2 separate regions of the Homo sapiens genome follow, and region 1 is linked to region 2. Evidence: fine-mapped expression QTL. A gene starts in region 2. The other region holds a variant in brackets. All regions are shown on one strand. Distances are from middle to middle. Region 1 has its middle 8.3 kb from the start of KRTDAP. Region 2 holds the start of SCN1B (sodium voltage-gated channel beta subunit 1).

Region 1 (8,328 bases), 450 kb before region 2:
CAGGACCCAGCTTCAATCACATGAGCCCATCTGAAATCCTTTTTTTTTTTGGAATTAGGTGGGCTCTAAATAAAGAAAACTAGCAGCGTGACCTTGAGTCTTCCTAAGCCTCTGTTTCTTTATCCGTGAAATGAGTATGGAGATAAATAAGAATGATAACCACTCTGTGGTGTTGTTATGAAGGTCAAATGACATAAGTATATAAAGCCCCTTGCACACGGCCAGGCATATAGTAGATAGTGTATCTCTACTCCCCCAGTTTCAACCAGAGAGCAGCCGCAATGATCCAGATTCACTCATTCACTCGCGCATCCATCCATCCACCCAGCCATCCACCCACCCATCCACCCATCCACCCACCCATCCATCCATCCATCCATCCATCCATCCATCCATCCATCCATCCATCCATCCACTGCAAAGATCTTGAAACATGAAATGGATTTAGTTTTGCTTCCTGTAGATGTATTTTCTCTGACCCAATTTGTGTACTTAAAATACTAAACTAGTTGGAATTGTTTCTGGTTTCTCTTGAAAACTGGGAAGATTAGAGAACAGTGGACCTGCGACTGGCTTAAAGCCAAGTAGCAGCTGCCCTCTTTACACAGGACATGGCTTCCAGGGAACTTTCTACTTGGCAAGCTTCACTTGTTTACATTGCCTTTGGCCTTTATAAGCAACTGCGTTTGTAAACCATCAACTGCAGTTTAATCGAGGAAGTGGACTACAAGGGAAATTAAACTTGGTTCCTACTTTCAAGGCGCTTACAGACCAGGTGAATGAGACATGTAAATGTTCCTGGCCGGGCACGGTGGCTCACACCTGTAATCCCAGCACTTTGGGAGGCCAAGGTGGGTGTATCCCTTGAGGTCAGGAGTTTGAGACCAGCCTGGGTAACATGGCAAAACCCCATCTCTACTAAAAACACAAAATTAGGTGGGCGGATCACATGAGGTCAGGAGTTCGAGACCAGCCTAGCCAACATGGTGAAACCCCATCTCTACTAAAAATACAAAACTGAGCCGGGTGTGGTGATGCATGTCTGTAATCCCAGCTACTCAGGAGGCTGAGGCACGAGAATCGCTTGAATCCGGAAGGCGGAGGTTGCAGTGAGCCAAAATTGTACCACTACACTCCAGCCTCGGTGAGAGAGCAAGACTCTGTCAAAAAAAAAAAAAAAGTTGCTTATGCTCTTCCTTCCAATACACACAAAGGAGAGGAAAGCTATAAATGGAATAACCAACAGAGAAGAAAACTATGGACACTGGTGAAATGCCACAATCAGTTGAAATACTTAGTGAAGATTGTGCACTCACAAACTAGGTGATAGGAAATGGAGTACAGGAAGAAGAGGGGAGGTGCTTAAGGGACACCCATCGAGTGACTAGGTTTTAGGGGAGGAGTAAAGCATCCCCAGGGGACTAGGAGTCACGATACACAAGTTAAGAGTATCTCTGAGATAAGGCGGTAGTTCTCAAAGTGTGGTCCCCACGCTGGCAGCACCAGGATCCCCTGGGAACTGAAAAGAAATGCAAATTCTTGGGCCCCACTTCAGATCTACTAAGTGCGAAACCAGGGGTGGGGCCCAGCAATCTGTGTTTTGACAAGCCCTCTAAGCAAGTCTGATTCACTAAAGTCTGAGAACCACTTCAAAAAGGAACGTCAGAGAACTTAAGATTAACCCAGAATCAGGATAGTAGTTGCCCCTTAGATGGAGAGATCCCATGTGATAGGAGAGTGGCACATAGGAGATAAGGGGGGACGGTGTGTGACAGAAGCCACTTCTATATCATGTTTCATTTCTTCTTTAAATATGTACATTTTATGCACACCTATGCATGTTGTATTTCACAATAACATATTATTAAAGCCAGAGAACACCAGATCAATTTGCAAGTGCTGACAGAATACACAGTCAAGAAACAATTGGAGTCTAGAGAGACTGCAATCTGAACCAAAAAGAAAAAGACAAAGTGAAGTGTAGACAAGCTGTGCACATGAGTGACAGATGTATACTAGCTAGATCATGTGAAATTGACAAAATGCACAAACATGGGTCAGGCCATTCAGAGGATTCAAAGAATGGAAGACATAGCACCTGTTCTCCCTGGGGATGACCTGTACATTTCCCATCAGGTAGAGGAGATAACTCAACACTGGAGACTTGAATCTGCATAAGCAAATCTTATTAAATAACCTTTATTTAATAAAAGGCAGGAAGTAGTCACTCTTCATTTTATACTTTATAAAAACAATAACAAATGCATTTTTTTTTTTTGAGACGGAGTTTCACTCTGTTGCTCAGGCTGGAGTGCAGTGGTGCAATCTTGGCTCACCACAACCTCTGCTTCCCAGGTTCAAACGATTCTCCTGCCTCAGCCTCCTGAGAAGATGGAATTACATCTTCTACATGGGTGCCCGCCACCATGTCCGGCTAATTTTTGTATTTTTAGTAGAGATGGGGTTTTGCCACGTCAGCCAGGCTGGTCTTGAACTCCTGACTTCAGGTGATCCGCCTGCACTGGACTCCCAAAGTGCAGGGATTACAGGTGTGAACCACCATGCCTGGCCAACAAATGAATCTTGTGTGGATACTATACCATCTGTTCAACAGGATGTAGAGATATACACTGAGCTATGAAACAATCTCCAAGATAGAGTAAAATGAAAAAAAGAAAGTGGCAGATCATTATGCTGCCATGTGGTTAAAATAAAGATATGGTACAAATATATGCTATTATCTGCATATTATCTGCTATTATCTGGAATAAAACTTGAGAAGTAACAGTGATAACTTTTGAAAAGTTAGATACTTTCACTGTGTACCCTTTTGGATTTTATGAACAAAAATGTTTTACCATGTGCAAATTACATATTCAAAAGAATAAATTAAAATCAAAACTTTCTAGTAAAGCAAACAAACACCAAAAAAACGCTTTGCACTGTAAAGTGGTAGGGCCTAGTCCATGCAGTGACCCAGAGTAGGTGCCTCTTAACTGAATGAATGAAACTGATTTCTCACATTTACCACACCCTTTTGCTACTCAGAGTGTGGTCCCCGAGCCAGCGGCATCAGCATCACTTGGTGCTTGCTTGCTAGAAATGCAGAAGCTCTGCTCACCCAGAGCTAATGCATCAGAATTTTAACAAGACCCCTGCCCCTGGATGATTCACATGTGGAATAACGTTTGAGAAGCACGGCCTTGGGCATGATGTTGAGTGCTATGCAGAAGGCCTTCAAGGAGTTATGATCCAGTTGATACTTACGATAAAGGAAGCATCCAGGGAGAAGGCACTAGATACCTTAGAACGATATGTTTAAATCTGACAGAAGGGAGGAGATAGTTTTGCACCAGGGTAAGAAAACTGGGGAAAGTAACTTTGAATTTGGCATTCATAAATGAACTTAAAAAAAAAAAAAGTCCCTGTCATACTCAGCCAGGACATAAAGGGACTAAAAACCAAAGCCAAACTAAGTGATTACTTTGGGAGGCTTCTGGGAATCAACTCATTTAAAAAACTGGTAAATAAAGGAAATGAATCAAGGATTCATCCTTACTTTCCTCTATGAACTATATACTTCAGGGTAAACAGTTTCTCTCTCTCTCTCTTTTTTTTTTTTTTTTTTTTTTGAGACAGCGTCTTGCTCTTTCACCGAGGCTGGAGTGCAGTGGCATGATCTTGGCTGGAGGCAGCCTTCACCTCCCTGGCTCAAGCAATCCTCCTGCCTCAGCCTCCTGAGTAGTTGGAACTACAGGCACAAGCCACCACACCTGGTATATTTTTAAATTTTTTGTAGGATGGGTGTCTTGCTATGTTGCCCAGGGTGGTCTTCAACTCCTGACCTCAAGTGATCCTCTGGCCTTGGCCTCCCAAAGTGTTGAAATTACAGGCATGCGCCACCATGCCCAGCTGGCACAATTTTTCTTTATACGAGAATTTGAAACTAATAAATGCAAAAGAAATAATAGAATATTTTCGTTTTTCAAAATTTAATAAAATAATGAATGTAGGCTAGCATCTGTAGGGAAGGAAAAAAACATTTTTTTCTACTGTCTTAGGTTCAGTGGCTGTGGCATGCTAATTACATTAACAAAAGAGGCCAGGCACAGTGGCTCATGCCT[G/C]TAATCCTAGCACTTTGGGAGGCCGAGGCAGGTGGATCACCTGAGGTCAAGAGTTCGAGACCAGCCAGACCAATATGGTGAAACGCCATCTCTACTGAAAATACAAAAATTAGCTGGGCATGGTGGCGCATGCCTGTAGTCCCAGCTACTCAGGAGGCTGAGACAGGAGAATTGCTTGAACCTGGGAGGCAGAGGTAGCAGTAAGCCGAGATCACACAACTGTACTCCAGCCTGGGCGACAGAGTGAGACTCCATCTTAAAAAAAAAAATTAACAAAAGATAGATTAGCAGGAGAAAAGGCTTATTATGCATGCATCCAGGAGCTTCACAGAAAAGAAGTGAAAACCTAAAGAAGTGGCCAGGCTTGAGGCTCATATACCGTTTTAACAAAGGGTGATAAATCGTGGAAAAGTAAGCTGGGCATGGTGGCTCATGCCTGTAATCCCAGCACTTTGGGAGGCTGAGGAAAGCGGATCACTTGAGGTCAGGAGTTCGAGACCAGCCTGGCCAACATGGTGAAACCCCATCTCTACTAAAAATACAAAAACATTAGCCAGGTGTGGTGGTGCACACCTGTAATCCCAACTACCCAGGAGCTGAGGCATGAAAATCCCTTGAACCTGGGAGGTAGAGGTTGCAGTGAGCCCAGATCACACCACTGTACTCCAGCATGGGCGACAGAGTGAGACTCTGTCTAAAAAAAAAAAAAAAAAAAATTGTGGAAAAGTGACAAAACGGTGAAAAAGGGATTTGGACATCCAGGTGATGTAAATTGTGGGAAGGTAAGTAAAATATACAGGGGAAATTAATGGAAGATAAAGGGTTATTTAGCAAGATTTGCTTATGCAGATTCAAGTCTCCAGCGTTGAGTTATCTCCTCTACCTGATGGGAAATGTATACCCTGCTTTAGGCAGAAAGGGAGAGGACAGAGAGTTCCTCTTCTGTCTGCTGCTTCTTAATTGCCTTCTACTCAAAATAATCCTTATGCTAAAGCAGCATACTTTGGAGTAGCACATGCTAATCCCTTCACATTAATGACTGCCAAACCCGGCAGGTGAAATGCTGATGGGGAAATTTATGGTGGTGGATCAGGCTCACAACCAGTGAACCCATGTATCTATCCAACACCCAGAGAGAGAAGAGACAAGCTTCTGCAGACCTGATGCAACAGAAAGCACAGGGCCCCACATAGGAAGCATTCTTGCCAAAAATCAACTCCAAACCTGATTAAAACTCTAGACTCTAGATCTAACTACCAGTTTGCAGGGGGATGAAAAGGCACAGAGGAACACAGTAAAGGATTCTACAGGAAAGATGTTAATAACTCCCCCCAACCTTGGCATTTCCTGTGAGAAATTCTAGAAAACTGATAATCCAGCTTCTTCAACAAAAACACTGTAGAAGAGTCGGGCACGGTGACTCACGCCTATAATCCCAGCACTTTGGGAGGCTGAGGTGGGCAGATCACCTGAGGTCAGGAGTTCGAGACCAGCCTGACCCACATGGAGCAACCCTGTCTCTACTAAAAATACAAAATTAGCCAGGTGTGGTGGCACATGCCTGTAATTCCAGCTACTTGGGAGGCTGAGGCAGGAGAATTGCTTGAACCCAGGAGGAGGCAGAGGTTGCAGTGAGCCGAGATTGCACCATTGCACTCCAGCCTGGGCAACAAGAGCGAAACTCCATCCAAAAAAAAAAAAAGCCACTGTAGAAAAAAAGGGAAAGGGGAAAAAAAGATAAAAATTGATGAGGCCGGGCATGGTGGCTCACACCTGTATTCCCACCACTTCAGGAGGCCGAGGGGGGTGGATCACCTGAGGTCAAGAGTTCAAAATCAGCTTGGCCTACATGGTGAAGCCCTGTCTCTACTAAAAATACAAAAATTAGTCGGGCGTGGGGGTGCACACCTGTTATTTCCAGCTATTCGGGAGGATGAGGCAGGAGAATGTCTTGAACCTGGGAGCCAGAGGTTGCAGTGAGCCAAGATTGTGCCACTGCATGCCAGCCTGGGTGACAGAATAAGACTCAGTCTCAAAAAAAAGTTGATTGAAGGGACCCATCACTTAAATGCAACATATGAATCTTGTCTATATCCTAATTTGAACAAACCAACTGGGAGAGAAAAAGATTTAGGAGACAACGAAGGAAACCTGAACACGGACATATTGATAATAAGACATTATCATCTTTGGTCTGGGCATGGCGGCTCACGCCTGTAATCTCAGCTCTTTGATTTGGGAGGCCGAGGTGGGTGGATTGCTTGAGTCCAAGAGTTCAAGACCAGCCTGGTCAACATAGTGAGATTCCGTCTCTAAAAAAAAAATTAAAAAAAAGAAACAATAAAAAAAATAAAAAGAAATTATATTTTTAGATGTGAAAATATTATTGTAGTTATGTTAAAAAAGAGTCTTTACCTTGCAGATACCTAATGATAAATCTATGTCTGAAGTAATAAACTCTTTAGGATTTGCTTCAAAATAATCCAGTGGGGGGAACAGGTTGGGGTACACAAGAAATAAGGTCGGTAATTACCTAATAAAAAACGAGGTTCATTATACTAGCTTTTTATTTTTGCAAATTTTGAAATATTCTACAATAACAGTTTCTTAAAATATTCAAAAAATTTCCAGAGTATGCTTTTAGAGGAGGGAGGGGGGAAGAGGGCCCTCCAGTGGGCAGAGCACGAAGAACTGGTAGTGCGGGATTCTGGACTGGGAACGCTGTCATTCAGCCGGGCTATCCCGTAGGCGTGGAGGCCTGGAAATGCAGGTTGGGTCAGATGATGGGGGGCTGAAAAATTTCCACTCAATCCCATCGTCAGTAAAGACAGTCCCGAAGGTGGTAACAGCCACAGCCACAATTCAATAGCAGCCATTCTTAATTTGGTTCTTATCACGCGCCAGGCTTTATGCCAAGTGCTTTGCATATATTATCTCAGTTGATCCGCAAAACAAACCTATTAGGTTGGCATCATTATCCCCATATTACAAACAAAGAAATTGAATCTCAGAGAGATAAGTACAGTCATGCTCTGTATAATGACGTTTCGGTCAACAACAGACGGCATAAACAACAGTGGTCCCAAAAGATTATATCATATTTGTACTGTACCTTTTCTATGTTTAGAAACACAAATGCTTATTGTGTTACAGTTGCCTGCAGCATTCAGTCCAGTGACATGCTGGGCAGGTTTGCAGCCTAAGAGCCATAAGCTATACCACACAGCCTAGGTGTGGAGTAGGCGATACGATAAAGGTTTGTGTAAGTGCACTCTGCTGTTCTTCATTTCTCAAAACGTATCTCCACCATTAAGTGATGACGGAGACTGTAATCTGTTCAAGCTCACACAGCCAGGACCCGGCAGAGCCAGGATTGAACCCGTACCTGCATTATCCCTGCTTTAACTGGTGTAATTTGGCCTTCACTTGCTTTATAACCTACTGTTTCATTTAAGACTTTGCTTGAAAAAAAAAATGTTTCCATTCCTTAAAAAATGTTTGGAAACCACTGCTAAGTATCCGCTGGAGGCATTTAAGGTGGTACAACTTAGCGGTTAGAATATGAGTTATAAAATCAGTCAGACCTGATTTCAAATTCTGTTCCTACCACTTTACTAGCTACGTGACCTCTGGGTGGCTACTCTGTCAGGGCCAAAGTTTCATCATTTGTAAAGTGGGAATAATAGCAATACTTCACAAGGGTTTAGAAAACCTCAGTAAATGTTAGCCTAGATTTTTTCATGTTAATAAAAGGTAGCTGTTATTATTATGCTATAAAACTCCACTTAGATAATGACTCAGATAGAGTCATACTTAGAGAAATAATATTTGCAACTGTATTCACTTGCTCTCTTCTGACAGATGAGGAAACTGAGGCCCATAAAGATGAAGTGACTTTCCTAAGAGCACCCACAGAAGAAATAGCAGAGCCAGGCTTTCAACTCAGGTTCTATTAGATTTCAGAGCCCTAGAATTTTTAACTATTTTAGTTTCTTGTGTTGGCTGGGTGCAGTGGTTCACATCTATAATCCTAGTGCTTTGGGAGGCCAAGGCAGGTGGATCATTTGAGGCCAAGAGTTCAAGACCAGCCTCTGCAAGATAGTGAGACCCCTGTTTCTCCAAAAAATCATGAAAAAATTAGCCAGGCATGGTGGTGCATGCTTGTAGCCCCAGCTACTTGGGAGGCTGAGGTGAGAGGATCACT
Region 2 (8,328 bases):
TCTGCGGGTGACCCCCACCCCCCAGCATCGTGACAAACACCAGAGTGGCTCAGACATGCCTGCTGAATTGCATTCTGCTACACCAATTTGACAATAAACGTAAAAATGCTAATTATAAAAAGAAACCCACAGGCTCTGGCTGATCACAGAGTACAGTGAATCATGCCAAGAACAGAAACACAGTCACCCAAGCTCCTCTGGATTCAAGTCCAGCTCCCAATCACATGACCTTGGCCACATAACCTTCCCTCCCTGAGCCTTGGTTTTCTCATCCGTAAAATGGGGATAGGAAGAGCCCCTACCCCAGAGGGTGGGGAGAGGATTCACTAAGGGACTCCGTGTAAGGCACTGAGGCCGGCACCCATCTCACAGAAAAGATGGGCAGTGCGTGTTGCCCATGAGGATGTGTGTGCCGTGGCCCTGAGAGACCTTTCTGCCACGGCTTGTAGCTGCTTCAAGGCCTGGGCTGTTTCCCCAACTCTAAGCCAGTGGCCACAGGGCGCTGGACAATTGCAATTGATGCTGAGCAGAAGATGGATCAGAGAAGGGGCGGACCTCCCTCAGAAAAGGGGTCCAGGGTGGCTGAGGCAAAATGATGAGACGTTCAAAAGCGCTGTAGGCCCTTGCTGCTCAGAGGGTGGGCCCCGCACCTGTGGCCCTTCACTGCCTCACCTGAGAGCTTTAGAAAGGACCCCTAGGCCCGCCCCAGAGGTGTTGAGTGAGACTGCAGGCCAGCGCGGCTCCCCCGGGGCAGGAGTGCAGAGGGGTGTGCGGAACTCTGCTCTAGGTGGCACGCTCTCTTGCCTCATCACCACAGAGGGCAGCAGGGCTGAGCTACTCGAACAGTAAGAACCGCCACCCTCGCCACCACCTGCAAGGCTCTGCTGGAAGCCAGGCGTGTGCCTGCAGCTGCTCAATCCTCATGAACCCCATGATGGAAGAATGGCTCAAACCACACCCCGAGAAACACATCGGATTATTATCCCGGGCAAGCCCAGGACAACCCTTTGGCTCAGAGACAGAAGGCACCTGCCAGAGGTCATACAGCACAGGTGACAGAGCTGGGTTCTGTACCCGGAGCGTCTGTGGGGGACAGGCATGCTTTGACCTCTCCGTGGGCTGGAGAGAAACAGAGGCCAGAGCTGGAGTGGGCAGGAGGGGCTGCTCCCCTCCCCCTCAGCCCGCTGCTGTGGGCGGTTGGCTGGCCAGGCACAGAGCCAGCCTGTCCTGTCCACTGCCTGCCATCTGTCCCTCCATCTGGCTCTCCGGTGGGTGACGGTAAAGGGGCAGGCAGCACCCGACTCACCTTTGTCCACTACCTCAATGTGGATCTTCTTGACGACGCTGGTGTTGTGCTCGTAGTTTTCGAAGAAGAGCAGGCGGTAGACGTGGCACTCGTAGTCGCCCGAGTGGTTGTAGGTGACATTGGTGATGAAGATAGACAGATCCTGCAGGTCTTTGGTGCCCCGGCTGCCATTCCACACCACGCGGCCCTCGAAGCGCTCATCCTCCTCCAGCTGCAACACCTCATTCTCATAGCGCAGGATCTAGGGGTAGCCAGGGAGGGGAAGGTGTCACTGCCTGGGCCTCTCTTCCCTTACCTGACCCTGATTCTGTCCCCTGCCCTGACACCCACAAACACAGATGGCACACAGATGGGCTCAGACACCTTGACCTCAGGCAGGGAGGGCACAGGGGTGGGGGGCTAGGATCACGCCTGGAGTCAACCAGACCCCGCTTTTGCCTCTAGCCAAGATGCACACGAGCACACACACGTTCCTCAGTCATCCTCCCAAGCCCCATCTGGCCTCTAGGCTATCATTCTCTGCCGTTCTTTCCCAGCCACCAGACACACTCCTCCAGCAGAGACAGGGCAGCCTGATTCCAGCAGCTGGAGACCCCAACTCTCCAGCACGTCACAGAATTTTATGGTTCCCTCACCGATATATAATGCAAAATACACACATAGTTTAAAGGAGGTTAAAAAAAACAGTTCTGTCTTCCCTCCGTAATGACTATCAGAGACATTGTTTGCTGGTGCCAAATAAGTCCACTGACATTTATTTCATGCCAACCGTGTGCCAGGTGCGTCAATGCATTCAGTCCTCACACAAACCTATGGGCTAGAGACCACCGCCACCCCGTCTTTACCGAGGAGGAAACTGACTTTCAGAGAGGCTCACTGACTTGGCCAAGGTCACCAGCTGGCCACTGGTGGAGCCAGAATCTGAATCCAGGTCAGCAATCACAGCATATTATTAAACAAATAAGCCCCCTCCCTGAGATCCAGCCCCACCGCCTCCCACTCGTGGACCCCTGCCCTCCCATGCCCGTTCCCGGCACCCGCACACCTTGACAAACTCCTCAGTGCCCTTCTGGCGGAAGGTCCACTCGGTGAAGGTCTCAGCGTTGGTCTCGCTGCGGCGCTTGCAGGAGATGCAAAGAATTTTGAAGGTCATCCCATACACGGCCTCGGTCTCCGAGTCCACCTCCACGCAGCCCCCGCAGGCTGAGGACACTGTGGGGACAGCAGGCTCAGGTCAGGCAGAGGCACCCATTGCCCTAAGCAATGCCAGACCCCTCACAAACCATCTGTTCCCCCCTCAATGATTACCAGCAGACAGGACTGGATGCTAGGCTGAGCCCTGTCACTCACTGCGTGACCTCAGCAAGTCATTCATCCCTGAGTCTCAGTTTCCCTCTCTCTTGTTGAAAGAAATGGTCCTTTGCTTCCAGCAATGGCTGGGCCCATTTTCATACATTAGGTAGGGCCTTGTACATGGGAGGCCCCATAAGTGGGACTGTCAACGTTGCCGGTAACTCAGACTTTATGCTACCCGAGTGCCCCTTCCTCAGAAAGTCCCTTGCTGGAGGAACCCAAGCATCTAGGTGGTAGAATGAGAATTCCAGCTAAGTTAGAAGTTTAAGGTGGCAGTCATTTTCACCATTAAATTGTAAAACCAGCTAGCTCCAGGAGAAATGGGTTGGGAGAAAAGGTCTGGGGGTGGGGGATTGTGGGGAGGTGGGCACTGAAACCGGGGCTGACCCACACTCAGCCCCTCTCCACAGCCCACAAGCCCCTGTGTGAGCCATCCCCTCCCCGGCCTCTCCTGCCTCCATCATCCCCTCTTCCCCAGGCTCCTCGCCTCTAGAGCTCTTCCCACCCCAACCCCATCCACTACTCAAAGCTTTCCTGAGCTCTCTCCTGCCCCAGGGCTTTTGCAGCCCACTGAATTCCAGTCTTAGAATTCCTTCACACTCTTACCTGGCACCTCCTTTCTGCCTCCCAGCACTCTGTAGCTAACGCTGTGTCTCTTCTGCTGCAGCCCTGTGCTGTCCTTGTTTCCTGATCCTCAGGACTTCTCATCCATCCGCCTCCCCTGCGGTCCCTTTCAGACTCCCTGAGGGCCTCTGTCTCAGTCCCTCCTATCTTTGTCCCTCTCAGGGGTCTCTCTGAAGGTCCCTCCACTTTTTGTCCACTCTCTGGGCTCAGAAGGAGACCTCTCCTAATCTCTTTCCACCTTTCTACGTCTATCCCTTTTCAAACTCCATGCAAGATTCTCTCCCGGTGTTCACGGGCACCCGCATCTCCCTCTCTCTTCTCTCCATCTCCTTCTGCCTTTCTCAAGTTTCCCTTTCTCCATCGCGCTCAGTCTCTTAACTCTCTCTCTCTCTCTCTCTCTCCAATACCCCTCTCTCTGTCTCCGTCTCCCCCTTGACCCCCATGTCCCCAGCATCCCAGCGGACCACTCCGGTGCGCTCCGAGTCCTTCTCTGTCTCTCGCCCCCTTCCTCCCGTCTTCATCTCTCCCTGTCCCTCCGTCTTTCCCGTCCCAGTCTCCGGGCGCCGCCTTCCCCCCACCCCCCTCCCGCGGCTGTGGGTGTCACATTGCAGCCTGCGGGGCTCCGGGAGCAGCTGACTCCGCGTTTCCTCGCCCCCGGCTGGGCGCCTGCAGCCGCCAGGCTGTGCCAGCCCGGCCCCCACCCGCTGGAGCCCACCCTCACCTCCACTGCCCTCCCCAAGCCCGGCTCCCGCGCGCACAACTTCTGAAGCTGACTTGGCGGGGCCCGGGGATGGGCCGGGGGTGGCCCTCGCGCGGCTGCCCCGTGTCCCGAGCGCCACTCCCGCCGCCCCGCCAGTGCCCCCGCGGTGCCCCCCGGCCGCGCGCGCCCCCCGCGCACTCACCCAGTGCCGCGCCGACCACTAAGGCCAGCAGCCTCCCCATGGCTGCGCGGCGCGTGCTGCGCCCCCCTCCCGGGCCGCCGGTATTAATAGCGGGGCGAGAGGCGGCGGGACCTGGCGGCGGTTAGAATGTCCCCGGGAGCGCGCGGGCGCAGCAGCTGCGGCTCTGGGACCGGCGAGGGGGGAGGAGGGGGGGCGCGGCCCCCCCGCTCCGGTTACCGCCGGGGGCCCAGCCCCGGGGCCCGGCGTCCGGGCATCCCCGCCGCGCGGGCGGCGGCCGCTGCTCGGGCTGCTGCGCTGGCGCGCGCAGCCGGGCACATCCGCTAGGTGCACCGACCCCGGTCCCGCTCCGGCTCGGGCGCGCTCGGGCGCGGACCGCGGTCTCCTGCGCACTGCAGCGGCGGCGGCGGCGGCGGCGGCGGCGGCCTAGGGAGGGACGAGGGAGGAGAGGGAGGGGGCGGGATGAATCACCGCGGGGGGAAGGCGCGGCCGCCCAGCCTTTGCCGCAGCGGCCCGGGAGGCGCCCGCTGCACCGGCCTCTCCGGGTGGCGCAGGGACCGCGACTTCTGGGAACGGGGAGGGTGGTCTGTGTGTCTCCGACCCCGCTGGGGCTCTGAGGACCACCCCCCCCCCCCCACCTTCCCAGGGAGTCTGGAAAGGTCACCCCCAGAGTCACAGGAGGACTTAGAGCGCAGTTTGGGGGCCGGGTTTCCGACTTCAAATGATGGAGGTCATCCTCAGGAGTTCCAGAGGGCGAACCTCCAAGTTATCTCCCCTGAGCCCTGATATCCAGGCCTGGGGGTCAATGTGCAGGGACCCCAAGTAGGCATTAGAGGAGGGTGGGGGGCCGTCAGGCTAGGACTACAGCTACAATCCGGACCTCACCCAAGCAGGCGGGGCACCCTGGAGAGAAGCAGCCCCGGGAATCTGGAGGTGCTGTTTCAGGAGGAGGACCCCTTCGTGATCCCCTGCACCCATTTATGTCCCTGATGTCACCTTCTACCCCTCTTTCCTCCCACTCCACTCTGGCTGTTCAGGCCCTCCTGCTGTTCCCAACACAGGGAACCCGTTCCTGCCTCAGGGCCTTGGCCCCAGCTCTCCCCTCTGCCCCGGCTCTCCCCCCCTGCCCCGCCCCTCTCCGTGGGCCTCCATGGCTCCAATGTCACCTTCGTCAGGTCTTCTGTGTCCCTTCAGGGTAAACTGCCTTCCCCGCTCCTAACCTGACCTCCTTTACTCTTTACCTCTTGTTGAGTGTTTTCCACAGCAGCCTCACTACCTGACATTATGTTCTTTTTTTTTTTTTTTTTTTTTTTTTTTTTTTGAGATAGGGTCTGGCTCTGTTGCCCAGGCTGGAGTGCAGTGGCTGATCTCGTCTCACTGCAACCTCCGCCTCCCGGGTTCAAGCGATTATCCTGCCGCAACCTCCCAAGTAGCTGGGAGTACAGGTGTGCACCATCATGCCTGGCTAATTTTTTTATTTTTTAGTAGAGACAGGGTTTCACCATGTTGACCATGCTGGGATTACAGATGTGAGCCGCCCCCCGCTATCCCAGCACTTTGGGAGGCCAAGGGGGGCAGATCACCTGAGGACAGGAGTTCGAGACCAGCCTGACGAGCATGGTGAAACCCCGTCTCTACTAACAATACAAAAAAAATTAGCTGGGAGTGGTGGTGGGCACCTGTAATCCCAGTTACTTGGGAGGCTGAGGAAGAATCGCTTGAACCCGGGAGGCAGAGGTTGCAGTGAGCCAAGATCGCATCACTGCACTCCAGCCTGGGCAACAAGAGCGAAACTCCGTCTCAAAAAAAAAGGCCGGGCGCAGTGGCTCACGCTTGTAATTCCAGCATTCTGGGAGGCCGAGGTGGGCGGATCACGAGGTCAAGAGATCGAGACCATCCTGGCCAACATGGTGAAACCCCATCTCTACTAAAAATACAAAAATTAGCTGGGCGTGGGGGCACATGCCTGTAGTCCCAGCTACTCAGGAGGCTGAGGCAGGAGAATCGCTTGAACCCGGGAGGCAGAGGTGGCAATGAGCCGAGATCACACCACTGCACTCCAGCCTGGTGACAGAGTGAGACTCCATGTAAAAAAAAAAAAAAAAAAAAAAAAAAAAAATCTCCCAGGTGAGGATATTGTCTTGTGTCTCTTGCACCTTGAACTGTTCCTGGCACATTGTAGGTACTCAATCAATATTTGTCAAACAAATAAATGAATGCCAATGTTCACTAAGTCCTTGGGATTTGCAGAACCCACTTCTACTGCCCCAAACCTTCAGCAAGTTCTATTATCCCCATTTTACAGATGAAGAAACTGAGGCTGGGAGAGGGCCGTGCCCCTGCCCAGAGTCATGTAGCTGGCCTAGGATGGATGTGGAATCCTGCCCCAGCAGTGGTGAGTGGCCTGTCCTACCAGTAGGTTCTGCCAAATTGAGAGAATGGAGATGGGAGTTCTGGGCTGTCAGGACCAGGGTGGGAGTGAGACTCTCGGCTGAAGGGTCACTACCCAGATCCTAGCCTCCAATTCCGGGTGGGGTAAGGTCTCAGAATCCCCCTGGCCCAGCCCTGCCAGGCAAGAGGAGCCAGGGTGTGGGGCAGGACCATGGCAGAGGGGCAGGGAGCCAGGGACATCCGACACCTCTGTGGTCTAGACTTTTACGCCAGCACCTTCTGAGCTGTGAAATTCCCCTGCAGAGAATAACCCTCTTGCTGTTCCGGGCCCTTCCACTGGTGGGGGATGGTAGGTGAAGGCACAGTGAGGACAGGCCTCAGCACTGGACAGGAGGCACCTCACGGCCCTATAAGCTATGTTCAGTGAGCACCTACTATGTATGGGCTTGGTGCTGTTCTAAGCATTCTAAGCACTTTACTAACATTAGCTCATTTAATTTTTCCTATAGGTGGTATTATTATTACACCCATATTACAGATATAGAAGACTGAGGCTCAGCATGGGTACCTTGCCATGATCACACAACTAGAGGATAGGAGAGGCTGGCTCTGCCTCCTATGCCACTCCTGATCCACTCTCCAAACCCTCCTCCAGTCCCCTGCTCCAAGCCATCAGTTAGGATGATTCTTATAGCCGGGGGTGTGACATGCCAAAGGTGTCTCTACCCCACATACTCCCTCTGGAACCAGGACAAGGTTTGCGTGAGGTGGACCTGGGTTCTTTCTGGACCAGGGACTTTGCCTCCAAGCTCATTTCCTCATCTGTAAAACAGGAATCCAACCAACGTCAGCCTGAATGGGCTGTGGTGGGGTCCTGAGGGGGTTAGGACCTTGCATGTAAATGTGGAGACCCCAGGGGTCAGGCCTGGAGTCTGCCTCCCTGCTGGGTAGCCTCGGGCGTGTACATCTTTGTCTCCACCTCATGGAATCACTGTGAGAATAAAATGAACATCAGATCTTGGCACAGAGCTGGGTACGTACGTACTTGGTACTCACTACGCGAGTTACTTTTTTCCCTCTATTTTTATGCAATAAGTGTAACATTTATTGAATACTTACTCCATTCCATCTGTGCCGGGCCCTGTTATAAGTAGCCACATTTATGAACTCCTTGAACCTATAATAGTGGTTCTCAAAGTGTGGTCTGGGGCTGGGCGTGGTGGCTCACGCCTGAAATCTCAACACTTTGGGAAGCTGAGGCGGGAGGATCGCTTGAGGCCAGGAGTTCAAGACTGGCCTGGGCAACACAGTGAGATCCCATCTCCAAAAAGAAATAAAAAATTAGCCGGGCGTGGTGGCTTACACCTGTAGTCCAAGCTACTCAGAAGGCTGAGGTGGGAGGATGGCTTGAGCACAGGAGGTCGAAGCTGCTGTGAGCCATGTTTGTGCCACTGCACTCCAGCCTGGGCGACAGAGACCCTAACTTAAAACAAACAAACAAAAAACCAAAGTGTCGTCTGGGATGGCACCATGAGCAACTCCTGGGAACTCGTTATAAAGGCAGAATCCCAGCCCTGCCCCAGACCTACTGAACCAGAAATTTGGAGGGAGGGGCCCACAGTCTGTTTTTCATCAAGCTCTCCAGGAGATTCGAATGCAGCTCAAGTTTGAGAACCACTGCCTTCTAACAACCCTGAGAGACAGCTACTGCCATTCTACCCATTGCACAGGAAAGCTCACTGGAGCTCCAGGGGG

What was found. PIP is the estimated chance that this variant, and not a neighbour inherited with it, causes the effect.
Region 1: its variant is fine-mapped to the expression of SCN1B in unexposed skin (GTEx, PIP 0.98).

The regions. Positions count from the first base shown.
Region 1 is chr19:35,478,005-35,486,332 of GRCh38, reverse strand. No RefSeq gene overlaps it. Among named protein-coding and RNA genes, the nearest start is that of KRTDAP, 8.3 kb to the left of the region's middle. RefSeq lists a silencer at 1,515-1,604. The variant G/C (reference allele first, on the strand shown) is at 4,125.
Region 2 is chr19:35,026,718-35,035,045 of GRCh38, reverse strand. SCN1B (sodium voltage-gated channel beta subunit 1) reads right to left here and starts at 4,576. Exons shown (of 6, transcript NM_001037.5): 1 at 4,186-4,576; 2 at 2,352-2,518; 3 at 1,307-1,547. The coding sequence starts at 4,225. RefSeq lists silencers at 3,999-4,107, 4,447-4,606.